Linked DNA regions of Homo sapiens. The protein of the gene in region 1 purifies or fractionates together with the protein of each later gene. This does not show direct contact. Each region holds a gene or a part of one and is shown in the gene's direction. Other genes may lie near its edges.

Region 1 (3,577 bases):
AAGATATTATAGGGAAGTGGTTGAGGTCAAGTGTATTCAAAGGAGAGGAGGTCTAGTCTCTGCCACTTTCTTGAGTGGTAATCTTGGGCAGGTCATTTGTTTCTTCCTCAGTTGATCCCCCGTTTTAAAAAGATAATATTTCCAGTTTCCTTCACAGAGATGTTATGGAGATAAAATAAGCTAATGGTGGTTTAAAAATTACTTTCATGGCTACACAGTGTGCTCAGATATGAGGTCCCAACACAGAGTTTCATCTGGCATTGGTGGAAAATGAAGCCTGGGGTCTCTGCTCCTTCCTAGTTGTTTGTGTGACTTTGGACAAGCCTCTTGATCTCTTTGAGCCTCAGTTTCCCCATTTGTGCCATGAGGTGACTGCCACCCTGATCACCTTTCAGAGAGGTTGTAAGATTAAAGTGAGACCCTGGATGAAAAGAGATTTTGTGATCTTAGAAAGTTTCTATTATTCCAAGCTACCAGGATTTTTACACACAAAAGCCATAGCCAGTGATTTTTCCCACTAGATCATTGAAGCTTACTCTTTTTTAAGGAGCAAAACTATAAAAGAAATGTTTAAAAACTATTTTTGGATGGGAATCTTTCTGAAACGAATGATATGCTTCTGAGCAAAATATTAATATACAGCTCAGAAAGAACCTCTGGTTTGGGACTAGGGGTTGTTGAGTTCATACCGGTGTGTACAGAGCGCCTGCTTGGTGAGAGTGGGACCACAAAAGGTTCTTTCTCTCAAAAGTGTTACCTCCCAAAGAAGAGACCTGGGGTGGGGGAGGGACCTAGTGGTGGGCAGAGGGAAATTGCTGGGGGAGAGCCCACTCCGGGAGTGCCCTGCCTCAAGGTTCCAAGTAGCAACACTGGCACTGCAGGAAGGCTCTTAAATCCTGTTCAAGGCTCTGAGTGGGAAGAGCCAGTCCTACCCGGTCAGTTACTGTGCTTATAGTAGTGTGAGGCCACGGGGCTTGTGAGACTCTAGGGCAGTGGGCCCCAAACTACGTGGTTCCCAGCTGTTGGGCTTTGGGGGTTCATGTTTCCACCTACAATCATTGCTGTGTCTTCTGCCTGGTAGACAGTAGTCACTTCTCTTTTTTTTCTTTCCTTTTTCTTTTTTTTTAAGTGGTTACCTAGATATGACATAAAATTTACTTGTATGTAACAGCAAATTTTTCAGTCTATAGTTTTGTAGCATGAGTACATTCTTTGTATTTATTGTTGTACAACCATCCCAGTACCCATCTCCAGAACTTTTTCATTTTCCCCAACTGAAACTCTTTTACCCATTAAGCACTATCCATTTCTTCATCCCCCCAACCACTGGCAACTGATATTCTGCTTTCTCTTTTATGAGTTTGACTACTCTGGATACCTCATATGAGTGGAATCATGTAGTATTTCTCCTTTTGTGGCTGGCTTGTTTCACTTAGCATAATGTTGTCAAGGTTCCATGGTGTAGCATGTGTCAGAATGTCCTTCCTTTTTAAGGCTGAGTAATATTCCATTGTATGTATATACCACATTTTGCTTATTCATTCCTCCATTGATGGACCCCTGGGTTGCTTCCACCTTTTGGCTATTGTAAATAATACTGCTGTGAACATGGGTGTGCAAACCAGGAGCAAAAGGTGAATGCTCTCTGAGTCTCTGCTTTCAGTTATTTTGTGTATATACCCAGAGGTGGAATTTCTGGATCAAAAGGTAATTCTATTTTTACTTTTTTGAATAACCCCCCATAACACTTTCCTCAGCAGCTGCACCATTTTATATTCTCACCAACAGGGTGCAAGAGTTCCTGTTTCTCTACATCTTCACCAACAGTTGTTATTTTCTGCTTTTTGTTGATTAGGTTTGGATTGGTTTTATAATAGCCATCCTAATGAGTGTGAAGTGGTTTATCATGTAGTGATCATTTATGCTGGGCTCAAAGAGCAGTCCCTCCAAATCTCTGGGAAAACAGACATCTGAGTGTGTTAGAATTGTGCATAGAGGCTGGGCATGGTGGCCTACACCTATAATCCCAGCACTTTGGGAGACCAAGGCAGGAGGATTGCTTGAGGCCAGGAGTTCAAGAAAAACCCGGGCCACATAGTGAGACCTCGTCTCTATTAAAAAAAAAAAAAAATTGGCCTGGGCACGGTGGCTCATGCCTGTAATCCCAGCACTTTGGGAGGCTGAGCCGGGCAGATCACGAGGTCAGGAGTTTGAGACCAGCCTGATCAACATGGTGAAACCCCGTCTCTACTAAAAATACAAAAAAAATTAGCCGGGCATGGTGGCACGTGCCTGTAATCCCAGCTACTCAGGAGGCTGAGGCAGGAGAATCGCTTGAACCTGGGAGGCGGAGGTTGCAGTGAGCCAAGATTGCACCACTGCACTCAAGCCTAACGACAGAGCAAGACTCCGTCTCAAAAAAAAAAAAAAAAAAAAAAAAAAGAGAGGAACCTGGCAGGAAAGGGGCTGGAACACCTTCTGCAAGGTGTGGGGAGGGAGACTGAAGGGACAGGGATGACTCCTCGTTTGTATGTTTTTCCTCTGGAAGTCTTGGGACAAGGAGCAAAGGGTGAATGGTGCCTAGGCAGCCAGTCACTAACCAAGTAGCCTGAATCTTAGTTTCCAGCCTGCGCACTTGGAGTTTTGTTGTTTTTAAAGGCTCAGAGAGATGTAATTAGCAGCAGCTCACCTTTGCAGGGTGTTTGCCATGTACTAGGAGCATCACGTGCAGTATTTGGGTTAATTCTCACAACCACCCTATGGGTGGATTCTGTTATCACCTTTTCACAGATGAAGAAGCTGAGCCTTAGAAAGGTAATGTCTGCTGCCTAAGGTCACACAGCTTGTAAACTGCAGAGCTGGGACTGGAACCCAGGTGTCTGATCTCAGAGCCCACGCTTTGGGCCAGTGTGTAGTTTGTCCTCATGAGAATGGGAAGAAGAGAACGCTTTTTTGTTTTGTTTTGTTTTTTAATGAGTTTATTATTGAGCACCTTCAGGCACCACTTTGCTGGATCCCTTCACAAACATCATCTCATTTGATTCTCCCTATTTTACCTATGGGAACATGCCTACCTATTTTACATATGGGAAAGCTGATGGCCAGGAAAATGAATGGATTGCCAGTGGTTATGATGCTAAGAGACAGAGCTGGAACTCAGCCTGAGGATGTTGATTCATTCCAGTGCTCACAGCTCGTTCCATTGTGCTGTGAGCCCTGACCAGCTCCCACCCCACCCCCATGGAAAGAAGCTGGTAGGTCAGCTGTGAAGTCTGCAAAACTCCAAGGACTATAGCCACTGCTTTCCTTTCACATTGCTGTCCCTTCTTCCTTTAATTTCCCCACCCCCAGACCACCACCTCCACACCTAGAAGCCATGTGAGTCCATCATCTTGGATCAAAGTGCTTGGCACATAGTAGGTGCTCAATAAATATGCGTTGAATGTTGTTTGAGGGCTCGGTGTGCTAGAGGCAATAGAATCTCAGCCAAGATTGTGTTCCTAAAGAGAAACACAAGTAGAATGCAAATATTGTTGTTTCCTCCTCCTTCTCCCAGAGCAAACCTCCGCTTTCCAAC
Region 2 (3,577 bases), on another chromosome or scaffold:
CCTGTTAATTTCCCTAATTCTTAGCCTATCCTCAGGCTTCACTTCCACTGTAGACCAGGGGCCTGCCTCATGCTTCCCTTCCCACCAAAGACAATAATAGGAATCACATACCTGTTAGCACAGGGGAGGAAGAACTCCGCTCCACTCTCCCCTCTCAGATTCTGCTGTTTTCCCTTTCAGAGAAGTCAGCCATTCAGCAAGCATCTGTAGAGCATGTGTTGTATGAAAAATGCTGTGTTACAGCATCAAAGGATACACAAAAGGAAAAAATAAGGCTCATGCCTTTCTGGAGTTCACAGTTAAGCAAGGAATACGACCTTATATGTATAAATCTAATATGACTAGTGAATGCTTTGGGAATAGTGATCAATAATATGCTATGGAAAGGAAAGTGATTAATTCTGAGGTGATCTGAAAGTGCTTCTCCTGAAGGGAAATGGGATTTTGGGCCAGGATGTAAAAGATGGGCATGATGACAAGAGATTAGGGGAGAGGGGATGCATTGATGGGAAGAAACCAGTTCAGACAAAGAAAGATTCAGCAGTTCTGGCTGAGAAGTTTGCTGCACTCTATCACACGCATACAGCAACAAATGCTACTTGCTCTTACCAGTCAGATGCTTATAGGGCAGGATTTTACAAGTTTTTGACAAGGATTTAGCTCTTTTTCAAAATTCTCATTAGGGAGGCCTTTCTGCCTCCAAAAACAAAGTCATCATGGAAATCAGTTCCTCTGTATGTGACGATTGATCCATCTCTGGCCTGAAATAATGACTGCAGGAGGCTACCATTTTGAACTACTTGTAGCCTGAGACCTTCTCATATATTTGGCAGGTCTGGCCTCTTCCTCAGCCAGCTTGAAATCCTCTCTGAAACATGCAACCTTCTATTTTCTTCTCCTTTAATTCCTCTTCATTGCAGAACAATAGATACTAGTGATGGAGCTTAAGTGCACATCAGACTCTTGCCTGTTTCCTTCTGAGAGAAAATACCGTCCCCTCCCAGATGTTTTCTGTTTAGAATTGTACAGAAATATTTTCTCCCAGTATAAATCCCCGACAAATATAGAGGCAACTTCCCATAAGCCTTCAGTAGCCTTTTCCTTCCTTCAGAATGAACAGAGCTAATTCCCACTCCCTATCCTACCACTAACACACATTTAAAATCCATATATGTAACACACAATTTCATTTAGCTTGATGGATTTTAGCAACTTAACTGCATAGCAGTCTAGACACCTTCCTTTCTCTCCCCGTGTTTCAAAGAAAATAAAAATGCTTAGGTGAAAACCAAATCATTATTGTTTATTCCCCATTAGATATTGTTATTTTGTCTTAGAGGTTGGTTGGATGGCTATGAATGTTATTTTATCTTTCCCCCCAAATATTTCTTAAGCCTGGTTGATTAAGAAATAAAGCTAAAACATAGGCGTTGGGAGAAGTGAAGAGATTCCTCCAAATCCCAATTAAATACTTTGTATTATTTGGAAAACTTTTTAGAAAGACAAGTGAATACAAAACAGTACTTGGGCACCCTTTTCATAAAGGGAATGCCATATTTAGATGTTATTTAATTTGGGGAATATGCAGGCAGAGAGGGAAATATTTCCAAATGAAATACTTCTTTTGTACTGCTTTGCTCCAACAAATACTGAAATTTCTGAACAATGCATAGTCTCTTATATTGTCACTGTGCCAGGACTGCATTCTTGAGCTTCCTCCCTCTCCTGGTCTCCTGCACAGCAGCCAGACCTTAGCTGACTGGAGAAGCATCTCATGGCAAGGCGGTCTGCTCCTTGCATCCTCTTCATCATCTGCCTTATTTGTAGTTATGATGAGTAAAAAATAAAACAAAGTTACTCTCACCACATAACTATTGTGGTTATTATATACATATTTTTCCTATTGAATAAATTTCAAGAACATTATCAGTAAGCTTTTGGGAAGGTTTGTTAATCAATCATTTTTCTCATCCTTGCTTTAGAGAATTCTGACAAGTTAAGTGAACTTGTAGAGACTGTCTGCCTGAGTTAAAACCACAATGTGGAGTGTGTTTCTGCTGCTGGCTTAGTTGATGCTATCTCCAACAAATGTTGCTTGCTCTTACCAGTCAGATGCTGACAGGGCAGGATTTTACAAGTTTTTGACAAGGATTTAGCTCTTTTTCAAAATTCTCATTAGTGAGGCCTTTCTGCCTCCAAAAACAAAGTCATCATGGAAATCAGTTCCTCTGTATGTGACAATCGATCCATCTCTGGCCTGAAATAATGACTGCAGGAGGCTACCATTTTGAACTACTTGTAGCCTGAGACCTTCTCATGTATTTGGCAGGTCTGGCCTCTCCTCAGCCAGCTTGAAATCCTCTCTGAAACATGCAACCTTCTATTTTCCTCTCCTTTAATTCCTCTTCATTGCAGAACAAATAGATATTAGTGATGGAGCTTAAGTGCACATCAGACTCTTGCCTGTTTCCACTTTCTTTCTGTGAGACCTTGGAAAAGTTAACCTGTTAAAAGTGGGTAGGACCTGCAAAGCTATAGAAAGATAGCCAACATTTCTGCCTTAGAGACAGAAATGTATATCTGTTCATTGCATAGATTTAAAATATAGTAGAGACTATAAAGAGAAACCCTTGGAGAAATAAGATTACTGGTGGGGATATTTCCCCCGGATGCTGAGTTAGAGACTTCTCTGGTTCTCACAGTATTTTCAGGGAACTTCATGTCTGATGTGTAACATAATCACTATGAGATGGTGTGACAAACATTACTGAATTGCTGAGGAAATTGCTCAATGCATGGAACCACAGTATTGGATATAGGCTTGATTCTGTGGAATGCAACTCATAAGTCTTTTTTAGCACCTTTCTACAAGCACACATTTAAGCTTATACAAAATAGAATTGACTTTCCACAAAATGTGAAGATACAAATAGCTAACAATAATCAAATTTTTGCTGTGTGCCAGTCATTGTACTGTGTTTTATAAGTATAAAATTAGTCTTGGCTGGGTGCAGTGGTGCACACCTGTAATCCCAGCACCTTGGGAGGCCGAGGTGGCTAGATTGCTTGAGGCCAGGAGTTCGAGATCAGCCTGGCCAACATGGCAAAAACCCATCTCTACTAAAAATACAAAAATTAGCTAGGCATGGTGGTGTGCATCTGTAGTCCCAGCTACTTGGGAGACTGAGGCACGAGAATCGCTTGAACTCACGAGGCAGAGGTTGCAGTGAGCTGAGATAGCGCCACTTCCCTCCAGCCTGGGCAACAGAGCAAGACTCTGTCTCAAAAAATAAAATAAAATAAAATTATTCCTCACATCTGTGCAATGAGGTAAATACTATTATTATCTCTAAGTTACAGAAGAAGGAACCAAGTCACCAAGAGGGTACAAAATTTGCCCAAGGTAGTAGAGTGAGGTTTTCACCCCATACTGTCTGACTGCAGAGTCTTTAAGTCACTATACCATGCCATCTCCTGAATAAAAAGAGGCTGGGAATGGGGAAACAGAGGCAAGAGTTAAATGTTCTATATCTGAAAATATCATCCAATGAATTTATTTCATTTTAACATTTATTAC
Region 3 (4,357 bases), on another chromosome or scaffold:
GGTTGCGTGAGAGGAGACTGCACCACTGCACTCCAGCCTGGGCAACAGAGCAAGACTCTGTCTCAAAAAAAATAAATAAAATAGAAACATAGGCCGGGCACGGTGGCTCGTGCCTGTAATCCCAACACTTTGGGAGGCCAAGGCAGGCTGATCACCTAAGGTCAGGAGTTCGAGACCAGCCTGCCCAACACGGTAATTAGCTGGGTGCGGTGGTGCATGCCTGTAATCCCAGCTACTCTGGGAGGCCAAGGCAGCAGAATCATTTGAACCCAGGAGGCAGAGGTTGCAGTGAGCCAAGATTGTGCCACTGCACTCCAGCCTAGGTGACAGAGAGAGTCTGTCTCAAAAAGAAAAGAAAAGAAACATAATTACCTATGGCTGTTCCTGAAGTCGCCCATGATGTAAGAGGTTTTGTGTGGCTGCCCCCTACAGAGCAGCGGTTGGCAAACTTTTTCTGTGAAGGGCCAGAAAATAAATATTTTAGGCTTTGCAGGCCTCTGTCTCAAGTACTGAATTCTGCTCTTGTAGCAAGAAAGCAGCCCGGGGCAGAACTTAAGCAAATGAGCAAGACTGTGTGACACTAAAACGTTATGTATAAACACTGGAATGTGAATTTCATATGATTTTTCACATGCCATGAAAAGTTCATTCTTCTTTTGATTTTTCCCCTAACCATTTAAAAGACATAAAAACCATACTTAGCTCAAAGGCCGTACAAAAACAATGCCCCCCTGCTTAAAGGAGGCAGAATCCATTCTTTGATTTTAGGACTAGAGATATGAAAAGCTATTATTATTTCAGAGAGGTGCCTAAGGCCTGACCGACGGCAGAGAGAAGGGAGGGTCAGTTAATCTCCCTCTGAGCATTCCGGGGTGAGGAGGGGAAAAAAGACCTTCCTTGGTGATGGATTCAGAGCCCTTATTTATTTTTGTTTGTTTTTGAGGCAGGGTCTTTCTCGTATCTTAATCTGTTTTCTTACCTGTAAAGCGGTGGCAATAATCCCTACCTTGAGCGATTATTAAGAGGGCTCAATGAGATAAAGGATGGTAAAAGATTTTGCAAAATGCGAATGTTTACTCACTTAATTGTTTCCACAGATGCGCGCTTAAGATCGCGCACTGAGTTTACTCCTCTGGGGAAGGCTTCTACGAAGTTTGATGGGACACTGTCCCTTTAAATCCTCCCCAACCACTTAAAGTGGTTGGACGAATCAGCACATGCGCATTCCTTTGAGGGGCCGGCACCTGGAGCAACAGCCTTCCCAGAGCCTGTAGAGGGGAGGTTAAAGGTCCTCCCACACAGTACTTTACGCAAGCGTAAATCATGATTGAGAGCCCTATATCATGCAGAGAGCCCAGTCCCTTTTTCGCGCCCGAAGGCTCCGCCCCGCGCAGCCAATCAGTAGGCCTCGCCCTTTGCAATAGCCAATGACAGTGAGCGTAGGGGGCGTGGCTGGGCGTCCGGAGGCGCGGCCTGGCGCCTAGAGAAGCGGCGGGGCGAGCCGGGGGCTCTAGTGAACAGCGGAGCCGGACGGGGATCGCCGGCGGGCGGCAAGCGGAGGCGGCCCAGGCCCGGCGGTCTCCGAGATGTCACGATGGCTGTGGCCATGGTCAAACTGTGTGAAAGAGCGGGTCTGCCGCTACTTGCTGCACCACTACTTAGGTCACTTCTTCCAAGAGCACCTCAGCCTGGACCAGCTCAGCCTCGATCTGTACAAGGGCAGCGTTGCCCTGCGAGACATCCACCTGGAAATCTGGGTGAGGAGCCAGGCCCGAGTCCAGGAAGGTGCGGAGGGTGGGAGCGCAGCGACCTGAGGCTCCCTGCGGCAGGATCGGGCTGGGGGATCAGGCACCGGGCGTAGAGAGGCCAGGGGAATCTTGCCCTCTCCAGGCGTCAGAGGCACCCCGGCTGGCCTCTTCAGTTCCTTACCAGAGCCAGAAACTGAGCGGGAAGGGGTTTCTGTCTCCACGGGAGGAGAAACTGAGGCTGGAGAGGGCAAGATCACCTGTCTGGAGAATGCAAGACAAACTCGTCGAGTTTGGGGGCTGAGTTAAGGAGGTTGGCTCTCGGGCTGAGGAGGGGCTGGGGAGGGAGCGTAGGAACTGAGCTGGGCCAGGGCAGTGACAGACTTGGGCCTGCGCAGCTGGTGGGGGAAGCTGGTAGGGGTCCGGAGCCCTGGCGAGGACACCTGTGGATCATGTGCCCTGACCTCTTGACCCCACGGTCCTGAGCCCGTAGGTGGGATCAACAAACCACCGGATGTGTATGTCAACAACCGCGTCAGTACGTCAGTACCAGTGTTGATCAACACCTCGTGTGCCTGGGTCGCTGCCTACTTCCTGCTTTTGGGAGAGTGGGATGGGCCAAGTGGGTGTCTAGGGAGGGACTGGATGGCCCCCACCTACATCTCCCACCGACCCCCCCGGCTCAGTGTCCCTGCCTGGAGGGAGGCCCTGGAGGAAAGGTGGGGAGATCTGGCTTCAAGCCGGGAGGAGGCCAAGGGAGATGCTAGGGAGGCCAAGAGGTGTAAGGTCAGAGGCTTGAGGCTGGGAACGGTGAGGAGCCCTGACTCACAGCTCAGCTGACCTGGGGAGCTTTGAAGGAGCCACCAATTAGAGGCGCGTCCTGGTCGATCCACCAGGTCCAGAGCAGCAGGGGTGGGCATGGAGGCAGGGACTTCTCAGTTTTGTGGCTGGACTCAGGGGGCTGCTAATCTGGGCAGAAGAGCTAGGCTTTGGGGGTAGGCCAGGCCCTGGTGAGCAAATGTGGGGTAGGATAATCGTGGGCCCTGAACTGGGGGCACCCCCCAGTGGCCTGCTGTCTGTGAATTCTGGTGTAGGAAGCCCTCTCTGACCTCTAACCTTAGCCTCAGCCTCTAAGGCCGTCTCTAGGCTGCCCCTTTTTTATTTTTATAGAGACAGGATTTCGCTATGTTGCCCAGGCTAGCCTTGAACCCCTGAAGGGATCCTCCCACCTCAGCCTCCCAAAGTGCTGAGATTATAGGCATGAACCACCATACCCAGCCCTAGGCTTCCCCTTTTTACTTTCAGCTCCAGAAAACGCCCCTACTCCTGTTCCCTGCCCTCTTGTTGGGGATTGAATTGGCTTCTCTAGGGCCCTGGTGGAATGCAGGCGCTTTCTTGATAACCAGCCCCTCCTCCCTCCCAGCTCAGCCTGCAGGCCCCGCCTTGAAGGCCCCCAAAGAAACTGAGTATCTGGGGCCTCTGAAGTGGCATGAAAAGAAAGAGGCCCGCATCCCAGTCTCAGTCCCTGTTGTATACTGGGTGACTAGATTAGTCCTGTCTCTAGGCCTCAGTTTCCCGAGCTGTGGGTCTCTGGGTGAGGAATTTGGACTCCCATCTGCTCTGCCATGTGCTTTTTTATTCTTGGATCCAACCAGTTTACTGAGGCCCTTTCTGGGTGGCACCTGGGGTGACGGGGGAGGCAGGTGGGGTACAGCCCTCCAGGAGCTTCCAGGTTGGCAGGGGTACAACTCCAGCATGGACATTTTAGCCAGGGGCTCAGCCTTGTGCCTCACAGAGAGGCACAGCTACACTAGGTGTTTGGGGTTGGTGGTGGGGGGGGGGGGTCCCATCTGGCATTAGGTCAGCCCCTCTCTTGGACACTGTCCCTTTGAACTCTGCTCATCCAGGGTGAACATGGGTATTCTGGACTCTGCCATACATGTGCCCATGTTGTCCTGTGCCTGCAACACACCACCTTCTACCAGCGCCTATCCCCCCTCCCTTTATTCTTCAGCTTGCCCCTCCTCTGACGGCCCAGGCTGGGTTAGGCGTCTTCCCCACGGCCCCCCCACCAGCCCCCTCACCACCCCCAAGCACCTGCTCACCTCTTGAGTTTCATCCTAGTTGCTCTGAGTCCCTGGCTGGAGCCTAGCTTGGCTGGGGAATGAAGACATTTTATTTACCCATCTAGTCTCAGTGTCAGCATGTAGAAAGTGCTCGGTAAATATTATCTTGAATTAAGTGGTGAGGGAAACATCTGCTCTGGCTTGAAGGATTAGGCACCTTTGGGTGACGGGGTAGGGGGGCTGGCCTGTAGTAGGGGACAGCATGAGCATAGGTGGGACCTTGTAGATAACACGTGGAGGGACAGGGCAAGCCAAGGGTGCTCTCCAAGGCACTATGGCCAGATAAGGCTGTGCCAGCCTGTGGGATTTGGGGTTTCCCTGAGCTGGTTTTGTCTCTTGCTTGCTCCCAGTCTGTGAACGAGGTGCTGGAGTCAATGGAGTCACCGCTGGAGCTGGTGGAAGGCTTCGTGGGCTCCATCGAGGTGGCCGTGCCCTGGGCTGCTCTGCTCACCGACCACTGCACAGTGCGCGTGTCCGGCCTCCAGC

Evidence for each region. The genes of interacting proteins can lie anywhere in the genome.
Region 2: the proteins of UBTD1 (region 1) and SHROOM3 purify together in Homo sapiens (co-purification; one study listed by BioGRID). This does not show direct contact.
Region 3: the proteins of UBTD1 (region 1) and ATG2A purify together in Homo sapiens (affinity purification with mass spectrometry; one large-scale study listed by BioGRID and IntAct). This does not show direct contact.

The regions. Positions count from the first base shown.
Region 1 is NC_000010.11:97,505,359-97,508,935, forward strand, and holds part of UBTD1 (ubiquitin domain-containing protein 1), read left to right. Parts: intron 1-3,577. UniProt on the Homo sapiens protein: May be involved in the regulation of cellular senescence through a positive feedback loop with TP53. Is a TP53 downstream target gene that increases the stability of TP53 protein by promoting the ubiquitination and degradation of MDM2.
Region 2 is NC_000004.12:76,742,697-76,746,273, forward strand, and holds part of SHROOM3 (protein Shroom3), read left to right. Parts: intron 1-111; exon of another isoform or gene 112-204; intron 205-3,577. UniProt on the Homo sapiens protein: Controls cell shape changes in the neuroepithelium during neural tube closure. Induces apical constriction in epithelial cells by promoting the apical accumulation of F-actin and myosin II, and probably by bundling stress fibers.
Region 3 is NC_000011.10:64,914,365-64,918,721, reverse strand, and holds the start of ATG2A (autophagy-related protein 2 homolog A), read left to right. Parts: upstream 1-1,512; 5' UTR 1,513-1,586; coding exon 1,587-1,757; intron 1,758-4,221; coding exon 4,222-4,357. UniProt on the Homo sapiens protein: Lipid transfer protein involved in autophagosome assembly. Tethers the edge of the isolation membrane (IM) to the endoplasmic reticulum (ER) and mediates direct lipid transfer from ER to IM for IM expansion.